2 separate regions of the Homo sapiens genome follow, and region 1 is linked to region 2. The links come from fine-mapping of genetic effects on gene expression. A gene starts in region 2. The other region holds a variant in brackets. All regions are shown on one strand. Distances are from middle to middle.

What was found.
Region 1: its variant is fine-mapped to the expression of LCN1 in prefrontal cortex (ROSMAP, PIP 0.95).

What each region holds. Positions count from the first base shown.
Region 1 is chr9:135,494,350-135,499,718 of GRCh38, forward strand. It overlaps PIERCE1 (piercer of microtubule wall 1), which reads right to left. Exons shown (of 3, transcript NM_001048265.2): 1 at 5,360-5,369; 2 at 4,236-4,314; 3 at 832-1,266. The coding sequence ends at 1,078. Among named protein-coding and RNA genes, the nearest start is that of PIERCE1, 2.8 kb to the right of the region's middle. The variant A/AT (reference allele first, on the strand shown) is at 2,445.
Region 2 is chr9:135,519,305-135,524,673 of GRCh38, forward strand. It overlaps LCN1 (lipocalin 1), which reads left to right and starts at 2,136. Exons shown (of 7, transcript NM_002297.4): 1 at 2,136-2,283; 2 at 2,743-2,873; 3 at 3,928-3,998; 4 at 4,576-4,686. The coding sequence starts at 2,194. RefSeq lists an enhancer at 5,001-5,369.

The DNA of each region.
Region 1 (5,369 bases), 25 kb before region 2:
TGATGTTTAACTTCTTCCCTAATTCGTGAGTAGAATCCCTGCAGGTAAGAATCTATTAACAAGATATTATTGATGGTGTGTAAGAGGAGTTTCTTTTTTCTAGTTTCAGTACTTTCTAAATTTCCTATAATGAACACATCTTGCTCTCATAGAGGGAAAAAAAATCCATGTCATAGACAAATTTTTTTTTATTGAAGACCCTGTAGCTCATAGTAAACATGGATTTATGACTACATAGAGATAAAAATCCACTTCATGTAGTTATTACCCCCCTTAGCAAAATACAGGTAATCCCCTGCCTTTTTTTTTACTTTTTATTGAAATTTTAAAATAAACATAGAGAATGCCCATGTCTGCATCATCCCCTTCCACAATGAAGGGCATTCACCAACCTTGTCTCTGCCCCTGTCCCTGCCCCTGCCCCTTGCTGGAGCATGAAGCACACAAACATGGTGGAGGAGGTTCATCTGCAACCCCATGTGCTCCTCCAGTAATCTCACACAGTAACGGCCCCTCCTGCCTGTTCAGCCTCGACTTGGCTGACGAGGCATCTGCTCCTCCTCCTGCCCAGCGCCTGGCCCTCGCCCACACCCCAGTGGGGCATCTCATGCCCTCGTGGGAACCCCGCAGTGTTTGTGCAGATCTCAGCCAGGGTGCTGGGTGCTTTAGGACGGGAGATCTGCTCCCTAACTGGTCTTGTGTGTAACATGGCTCCCAAATACAGACACGAGCGGAGTTAGCCACCAGCGCTCCCGATGCTCAGGCCAGGACTTGGGCCCCGGGAGCCCACAGCCCCACTCCACCATGACAAACGTCAGACGAGACGGAAGCTCAGGATGTGACAACGTTTTTAATGCAAAGTCAACCATTAGCATCTTTCCCATGTACTTATTAGATGTGAAATGGCAGGACTTCACGGCCCCGTTTGCATATTTTCCTACTCCGCAGACGAATAATATTTTCAGGGAAGGCAGCGCAGTCTGTGCCGTCACAATCGGGCGACTGTGGGTGATGAGGGATGATGATTTTCCAGGAGGCCCTGGGGTCAGAGGACTCCTAGAGGGAGTTTCCAGCCCCTCAATCGCAGATGGATGGCCTGTTGATGTTGTAACTGGGGTGGAAGTTGAGCCGGTCACAGGAGGTGATGCAGTTATCGGGGCCAGTCACGATGCTTTTCTCCAGGTAAACATTGAGAGTATTGTTCCGGAACATTCCACCCGCTGCAAGTTGTTGGGAAAATTTATTCGAATTTGGATAAAATACTTTCTATAAGAGATAAAGGAACACGGATTAATGACGTATAATACTCTTGAGCAATCCGTTGAATATTTTTGAAAGAAAAATAAGAATTCATAAGAAAATGCAGAGAAGCCAGAGTGGGTAGGATGGCCTGGCTCACCCCAGACCATCCTAATCCATGCCCGATGCCTGGCACTTGCTGTTAACACTGCCCCCGGCACTGTTCTAAGGATAGAAGAATGAGCTGTGGGGCCACCTGTGTGCCATCTCTACCTCAGGATGTGGCTGTGAGCATCGCCTTGGGGGTCAGTCCTGGAGTCACCCCCAGGTCTGCTTTTGCTCACTGTGCTACTCTGGGAAAGCTGCCAGCCCTCTCTGAACTTCAGTTTTCTCTTCTATGGAATAGAAATGATATCCATGTCAGTGGGTTTCAACCTTAACTGGGGCTGGGTGCGGTGGCTCACGCCTGTAATCCCAGCACTCTGGGAGGCTGAGGCAGGTGGATCGCCTCAGGTCAGGAGTTCGAGACCAGCCTGGCCAACATAGTGAAATGCCGTCTCTACTAAAAATACAAAAATATTAGCCAGGTGTGGTGGCGGGCGCATGTAATCCCAGCTACTCGGGAGGCTGAGGCAGGAGAATTGCTTGAACCGGGGAGGCGGAGCTTGCAGTGAGCCGAGATTGTGCCATTGCAGTCCTGCCTGGGCAACAAGAGCAAAACTCCATTGAGAAGGGGTGTGCTGAGGCCACTCGTGTGGGCGGGCACCCAGTGGTAGGAGTTATTCTAGCAAGACAGCATCATTAGGTGACTGTGACATTCCTGAAGCGAGTGGTCTGGACCTCCGCCAAATATTTTACCCCATACGGGTGACCTGTCCTTAGAGGATCCTGTGCCACGCACATCACCTGATGTTTCATCTCCTTGGCAAGAAACAAGTGCAAAGAGAAAACTTTTCTTTGTTTTTGAGAAGTTTTAGATCTATAGAAAAATTGAACAGAAAGTACGGAGAGTTCCCAAATTACCTCCCTCAGCAAACACAGTTCCCCCTGTCCTTAGCATGTCGCACTTGTGTAGCACACTTTTTACGGTGGAGCCAGTGTTGATACTTTATTAGTAACTAAAGTCTACATTCTATGGGTGGGACAAATGTATCATCACAGGGATCCGCCCATGCAGTATCATGGAGAGGAATTCCCTTCAGTGC[A/AT]TTTTTTTTTTTTTTTTTTTGAGATGGAGTTTTTGCTCTAGTCACCCACGCCGGCGTGCAATGGCGCCATCTCAGCTCACTGCAACCTTCGCCTCTGGGTTCAAGCAATTCTCCTGCCTCAGCCTCCCAAGCAGCTGGGATTACAGGCGCCCACCACTATGCCCGGCTACTTTTTGTATTTTTAGTAGAGACGGGGTTTCGCCATGTTGGCCAGGCTGGTCTCAAACTCCTGACCTCAGGTGATCCACCCGCCTCGGCCTCCCAAAGTGCTGGGATTACAGGCGTGAGCCACCACGCCCAGCCTTTCAGTGCACTTTTTAATGCAAAGCATTTATCTTCTATTCCCACATGGGAGGTAAACAGCTTCTCCGGCATCCACCCTTGGTCACGAAACTGGAAAAGAGACTCCAGACGGAGCAGGTGGATAAGAAGGAGGAGAACCTCCTTGGAAACTTGTCAGTAGTACCTCATGCCTCCTACCCCACTGCCTGCTCCCATCAGTGACCTGAAGGCTCCTACCATTTACAATAGGAACATTTTTTCATGGCCTTTTATAAAACCTAAAACATCTGGACCCATGTTAGTGAGTGTGCTGGGTTTTTTTTTCTTTTTTTTTTGGTTTTTGTTTGTTTGCTTGTTTGTTTTGGTAACAGGGTCTGGCTCTCACCCAGGGTGGAATGCAATGGCATGATCAAGGCTGACTGCAGCCTCAACCTCCTGGGCTCAAGCAATCCTCCACCCTCAGCCTCCTGAATAGCTGGGACTACAGGTGCATGCCACCACACCCAGCTAATTATTTTATTTTATTTTTACAGGGATGGGGGTCTCATTACGTTGCCCAGGCTGGTCTTGATCTCTGAGCCTCAAGTGATCCTCTCACCTCAGCCTCCCAAAGTGCTGGGATTACAGGCGTGAGCCACCGCATCCAGCTGTGTCTGGTCTTTTTCATAGAAATACCTGATCCCCAGGGAAAACTCAGGGTCGTCTGATTACGGGAGAGTGATTCTCAAATGCTCCAGCATTTTTAGATAAGTAATCTTCTCACAAGGGCTCAGTCACTCACGCCACACAACTAAATAAGCACTCACCAGACCTTTTCAGTGATGAATGCTTTGACAACGAAAATACGTCCACAACATTCTCACCCCAGAATGGCTGGCCCAGTGTCCCAGGTGTGCAGGAGACACCGCACTAGTCCCTCTGTCCATTCACCTGGACCTTCATGGGGTTTGGTGTGGGGAGGTTCTAGGAGGGCCATCCTGGAGCCTAAGGTCAAGCTCAAAAAGGGTTTGGCTTCCCCAATGGCCCACAGACTCCTGTGCCCACCAATACAACTTGCCCACCCACAAGCTGTGCCGTCAGCCAGTACTGCCTCTTCAGGTTACACGTTAACATCTCATAAAGTACAATTCCAAAAAAAAAGTAGCCCTTCATTTATTTGCCTCAGAACTGAGCACCGTAAGTTGCAGGAGATGGTTGCGTGTGTGTGTGTGAGACTGCTGTGCGTGTGGTTGGGTGTATGGGGGCAGGGTGATGTCAGCAAGTCTATATCCTCCTCTTTTAAAACACTCCACTCCCAAATTCATTCACTCATTTAGTTCCATCCTACCCTCTCCCAAAGCGATTTTGGGAACCTCCCTCCTCCCCATTTGTGATGCTGGAACTTTGGCCTCCTCCCTGGGTGCACCCCTCCCCGTCTCATTGTTGACCTGTTGAGAACCCCAGGTTTTTAGCCTCTTCTTGAGGCCACCCACCCCCTGCCCCCCATGCCCGGTCTTGCATCCCACTTACAGGCATCTCGTGCACGGTGGGGGCTCTGCTCCCGTAAGCCTGGTTACTGGTCCTGTACACGGAGACAGCCTTCTGGGTCCTGGTAGATGAGAAACACTCTATTTTCATTCATTTACTCTAATTCTGCACAAGCCACAGCCTTGTATTTGGTTGACGGCACTCCCCTGGAAATGCCCCCATGGAAAGAGCAATATGCCCGGGCTGGTGATGTGGCCTCGAAGGCAGCCTCTGGGAGTACCTGGCTGATGACCGTTCTGAATGGCCCGGCCTCCCCGGCCCCCTCTGCTTGCCACTGTCCCTGCTCTTCCAAGGCAGGCCAAAGCCCTAAAGAGCAGGCAGCCAGCAAGTGCTGATCCCCAGCCCTGGCAGGGCCTCGGCACATGCTGCAATTTCTGGGTAACCTAGCTTGTCAGGAGCGGAGGCTTGGCCTCCAGACCCTGCCACCCAGAGGGTCCCTCTGCCTCTGAGCCCCCACCCTCACTGAGGCTATGCTTCTACTGGTACCACTGCCCCTACCTGTCAGTAGGACAGGCTACTGAGAGGCTGCAGGCCCACGACATAGCTTTACTTTATACTCCTAGATCTTGGCCAAGTTGTTCCTTCTACATCCCAGTCATCTCAATGCGAGAATGAGGATACTAACAGACCCTGCCCTAGAGGACTGTTGAGGGACCAAATGTGTGATGAGCACGGCAAGATGTTTGCACCTGCCTACAGGAATTGAGTTTCTTACTACTTCTTAGCCTGCAATGCCCTGTGGCAGCTCAGAGCTGGCTGAGTCTACAGCAAGACAGTGGAGGTGCTGCTGTGCTCACGCCCCGCAGCGGAGTTTCAGGGTAGAGAGGAGAGGAGACTCACCCGACACAAATCAGTGGAGCTGAGACCACAACTGGGCTTTCTCCCCCCACGGCCCTGCCCCCCACTGCCCTTATCCCCACTTCCTTGTATGAGGCTCTAGGGAGCACGGTCGCCGCTCACTGGCGGGCGATGACAGCGCGGGCCCCGGATGACCACTCGATCTTCTTGATTTCTGTAGCTAGGACCTTGGGGGTCTTGCGGGGTCTCTCACACACGGGGCTATCGAGCAGTGGACGCCAGGACCAGGCGGGCCCCAGCTTCCTCACCTGTAGCCCC
Region 2 (5,369 bases):
TTCTCCCGGGTCTGTTAAAGACGTCACTCCACTGTCTTCCGGAAGGCAGCGTTGCTATTGAGAGGTCTGCCATCAGTCCACATCCGCTTTTATGGTATGTAGTGTGGCTCTTCTTTCTGGTCATTTTGACTTTTTTTCTCCTTTCCTGGATGATCTGCATTTCACTGTAATATTCTAGGAGTGGATTTCTCAATTTTGATCATTCCTTGGTAATTTAGATCTGGGGTGTCATCTTCATGTCTTTTCAATTCTGAAGAATTCTGAGCTATTCTGTTGCTTTGTTGCCATTTTAGAAAATGTTTTTCTTTCAGAACTCCTATTCTGTTTATATTGGAACCTCCTGATCTATTCTCCATGTGTGTTAACTTTGTGCATGTGTGTGCATGTGTGTATGTGTGTGAGTGTGCATGTGTGTGTGTATGTGTGCATGTATGTGCATGTATGTATGAATGAATGGTGTGTGCACGCGTGTATGTCTGCGTGTGTATGTGGGTGTGCATGTGTATGGGTTTGTGTGCATTTGTATGTGTGCACATGTGTGTGTGTGCATGTGTGTGTGCGTGTGTGTGCATGTGTGTGTGTATATCTCTGTGTGTTGTGTTTTCAGAGCTGCTGCACTCTAGTTGGTTTCCTCCACTCATTTTATTACTAGCTCCAGGCTGGAGACTGAATCTATCTGTAACACCTCAATTTCTCTTTTGAATTTTTCTGCTTTCATTGATTTTGTTAGTACTATCTTCCATGACACTAAGTCTCTTTTCTACTATGTCAAGTCTGGAATTTAACCTGTCTATTGAGTTTTTTATTCACTTTATTATTCATCTTCAAGATTTGTAATTATTTCTATTTCGTCTCTCCTTATTTCTTATATTCTGGCCAGTTCTAATTTTATACTTTATATATTTTTAAATCACTAGGCATCTTGATCATACTCCTGCAGTTTTAAAGTGTGTGTCAGACTTTCCTTGGCTGGTGTAAGTTCCTGTACCAATTGCTCATTTTTAGCCTGCCTTTCTTAGTGTGGTGTTTCCTTGGGTAATTTGGAACCTGGCCTTTCTAGCTTATTTCAAGGTGAGGATATTGTGTCTCTGCATTTCTGCCTTTCTCTGCCATCTTGTTGTCACTGTCCTCTGTCTAGCAGTGTTTTGTAGCCTCTGCTCCCATCCCGGGTCCCAGGCTTCTGCTCTGCAGTGATGCAGAGCATGTCACAGATAAAGTCATCCTTTCCAAGGACGGCTTGTCTCAGCTTCTGCCCTTGAGGCTGTGTTGATGTCCTCTTGCCTTCCTATGCCCACAGTGCTCCACTAAGTTATACGAAGTTACAGCCCTGGGATGTGTCAAGGAGGGTTTCTCAGCCTTCTTTCTGGAGTCAGGGAAGCCCCTCCCATCACTCCCAGGAGCCGGACCTAGGCCCTCTCTGCCTGCCTTGGGACTTGGAGCTGACAGGCCCCTGCCTCTGCCCCATCACCAGCCTGTGCTTCTCCTCCATTCCTTGTTTTATGTGAGTGTGTGTGCGTTTGTGCATGTATATATGTACACACATGCATACACACACACACACCTGTCTTGGTCTTCTGTCTGTCTGACCTATTGCTGCTCTGTGTGTGGAGCAGAGAGGGTCGTTACTGCACACCTTGCTCAGGACAGTGGACACCGTCTTTAAATGCACACGGGATCGTGTTCACACAGGAGGGTCCCTTTTTTTCCATGATGAATCTGAGGCCAAGTAACCTGCCCAGAGATGCAGGAAGCTCAGCTGAGCCCCAAGCCCACGGCCCTCGGACTCCAACCCCAAACCCCCTTGACAGTGTGCACGTCAGCAAGTGTGGGATGGCTGGGGGGCATCTGTTACGGCTGCACACGTCCCCAGGAGGCCTGCACACCCTTCACTCCCTTCAGTTTCCCTTCAGGTGAAATCTGCAAATCTGCTCCTCTGGACCTGGTCCTGTCCAAGTGATCCTCTGGGATTAACAAGCTGTTATTCACCAGCCTCCAACAATAATGGCAGGTTATCTGCTCCATTGCAGAACTGGCAGTGGTTTACATCCAGGAAGGGATTGGTCAGTCTCCTGTGCCAGGTCCCTGGGGGACCCTGAGCCCAGCGGTATAAAGGGCGGCTGTGGGAGGACTGGTACAGCCTCTCCCAGCCCCAGCAAGCGACCTGTCAGGCGGCCGTGGACTCAGACTCCGGAGATGAAGCCCCTGCTCCTGGCCGTCAGCCTTGGCCTCATTGCTGCCCTGCAGGCCCACCACCTCCTGGCCTCAGACGAGGAGATTCAGGATGTGAGGCCCGGATGGGAAGGCTGGGCTGGAGGGGGCAAGGGGCGAGGCTGAGACTGGATGGAGACCCCATGCCTCCTCCATCCAAGGAGACCCTCGTTTTTGGGTTGGGCATTCAAGCCCTGCCCTGAGGGAATGGTGGGATGGGGCAGCAGGGGTCTGGGCTGGCAGGGTAGGTGGCGCAGGGGTGCAGAGTGGGCAGGGCTGGGAGGGTGGGGGTCTGGCTGACTTCACTTCTTCCCTGGGGATGAGGGCTCCTGTGGTCCTGGCTGGCTTGTGGGGGCTGGAGCCACCTTCAAGTGGGCCTGGCGAGGGTGCTGGGTGTTTTCTGGGTGGGTTAGATTGGGGAACGTTCCCCGTTTCCAGCCCTCGGGGTGCGGTAGAGTCTAGGGGCTGCAGGCCAGGGAAGGGGGAGGCTCTGGAGCAGTCGGCCTGAGCCTGATAGAGAGGGGCCTTCTCCAGGTGTCAGGGACGTGGTATCTGAAGGCCATGACGGTGGACAGGGAGTTCCCTGAGATGAATCTGGAATCGGTGACACCCATGACCCTCACGACCCTGGAAGGGGGCAACCTGGAAGCCAAGGTCACCATGCTGTGAGTGTCTGCCAGCCGGCCGGGCAGCCTGCAACCTGGTCTAGGGCCTTCCCTTTCCCCACCCAGGAGAGCTCTGGTGCTGGGGAGGTGGGCAGACCTGCTGGGAGGCCTCTCTCGGCCCCTCCTGCAATGCTTGAGGGCAAACTGTGCCACTGAGGTGCCTCGGCTGGAGGGGCCCTGAGGGGGCAGAGGCCCCGGATCAGACCCTGTGGGCTACCAGTGGCAGCCCTGGGTACCGCCCACTTCCTCCTCCGACTAGGGAATGTCTGGTGACGTGCAGGCCCCTTTGGGAAAAGGTGTTTACCCCCGACCAGAGTCAGAGCCAGTCCTGGCAGTAAATTTCTGCTTTGGAGAAGTGCAGGGATGGGGCTTGCAGAATGACCAAGAGGGGGCATAGGAGAAGACACCATGGAGAAGACCCCCTTGAAATCCCTGTGTAGCGCTCACCTGTGCGGCTCTCACCTGGGCTGCTTCCACCCGCGTGGCTCACATCTGTGACTTCCCACCTGTGTGATTTCACCCGCATGGCTCCCTCCTGAGTGGCATGCAGTGCCTGTGCTCCGGTCCTGGGGGCTGAATCTCAGGAAGTCACTGACCCTGGCAATGACCCCGATTTTTTTTTCCCCCAAAGCCCCTCACTGAACCTTTCCCTCTCTGGGCCAGATGATGATGGATATGGGGCTTGTGCCTGAATGTCTCTAAAAGGAAGAATGCAGCTGGCGGGATGAGGCTCAGGCCCACGCCACAGACGCTGCCTGCAAACCAGGCAGCCTGGGTGCCTCTGGCAGGAAATGTGTTGGGGGCGGGGGGTTTGGGAAGGCAGCCACCAGGAGGAGCGGTGCAGAGCTCCTGGCCATCTCGGGAGACCCCGGGAACTGCCGCATGGGACCCGGAGGGGCCGCTGGTGCCTGGGTCTGAGATGCAGAGAAGCACCCTCCTCCATGGGCCTGTGGCAGACTCGGGGCCACATTTGCAGGGCATTGCAGCATGGTTGCTCCAGGGCCGGGGGAGGCACAGGCCAGGGCCGCTTTGCCAGGGGGCTTCTGTTTTCCAGGATAAGTGGCCGGTGCCAGGAGGTGAAGGCCGTCCTGGAGAAAACTGACGAGCCGGGAAAATACACGGCCGGTGAGTCCCGGGGCCTGAGCCAGAGCCTGAGCTTGAACACACGCTGGATGTGCGGGGGCAGCCAGTGCCTTTTTGGGGTGGCCTTTTGGCCTGGGAAGCCTTTTGCTGCCTTCTGACTCCACTAAAAGCCCACTCTCTTCTCCCACTGGTCAATTTGCATTAGAGACTTGAACACCTGACCCCAAACACCAGGTGTGGCAGGTTTGTCCCGGGGCGGACCCTCTGGGCTTGCCCTGTAGCCCTGGCTGTGGCTCTGGCAGGGCCAGGAGCAGAGTCGTATTTGGCTGCGGGGGGCTGTACCCCAACTCCCACCTCCGCAGACCTCATACCCGGAGGAACCCCCCGTGACTCACTGGTTTGGGATGTGGCCGCCTCTTGGGTACATCAGGTTCCTGGGAAGTGGGGGTCCCATGGCCTGGGGCTCAGGCCTGGTGGGGAACCTGGGTCAGGGAGCTCTGGGAGGCTGGGAGGGTGCAGGAGCTGCGGGGCTTGCTGGGCCTGGCAACGCACGCTGTCCCGGGATCCTCTCTGAAGTCCCTGGTGGCTAATTCAGGAATGTGCTGCTGTCTTTCTGCAGACGGGGGCAAGCACGTGGCATACATCATCAGGTCGCACGTGAAGGACCACTACATCTTTTACTGTGAGGGCGAGCTGCACGGGAAGCCGGTCCGAGGGGTGAAGCTCGTGGGTGGGTCCCGCACCCTCACCCTGCAACCCATGCCTCCACCTGCCCTCCCTCCTCCCTCGGCCTCCTGCACCCTCTTCCCCATGGGAGAAGCCACTGGGACCCAGGAACCCACTGCAGTTTTCTTAGGATGAGTTTTCCTGATAAAGGCCTCAATTCCCACCCCTGGAGTTCAGGATTTGGGATGCCCCGGCCTCGGTATCTGCAGCAGAGGCAGGAAGGAGCCACGGCTGCAGGCACAGGGGTTCAAAGGTCACACATGTCCCAGAGTGGGCCAGGCCCTCCCCCGGAGCAGCTCCCTGCAGTGTCATCCTTGAGCGCGTTCCTGTGGGGTGTCCAGCAGGAGAGAGGAACAGGGATGTGAGCAGAAGTCTGCATGGAAAGAACGTTCCAGCTCCCGGGGTTGAATTCCGGACGCGGTGCCTCCCACAGATGGTGACTCATCAGTGCTGTCCCTGTCAGAGGACGAGGCCCATGAAGGCTCCTGAGTTCTCCCTGGAGCCAGGGGTGTGCGAATGACAGAGGATTGGGATCCTGGTGCCCCCAAGGGGAGAGGCGCTTCCTCCAGGGTGGGCCTGTCGTGCCGTCCATCCTCACTCCGGGAGATGCTCAGGGATGGATGGAGAGCCCTTCCCGTTCTCCCGGTTCTGCTGCCACAGGAGCCTTCTCAGCCGTGCACGGCACCC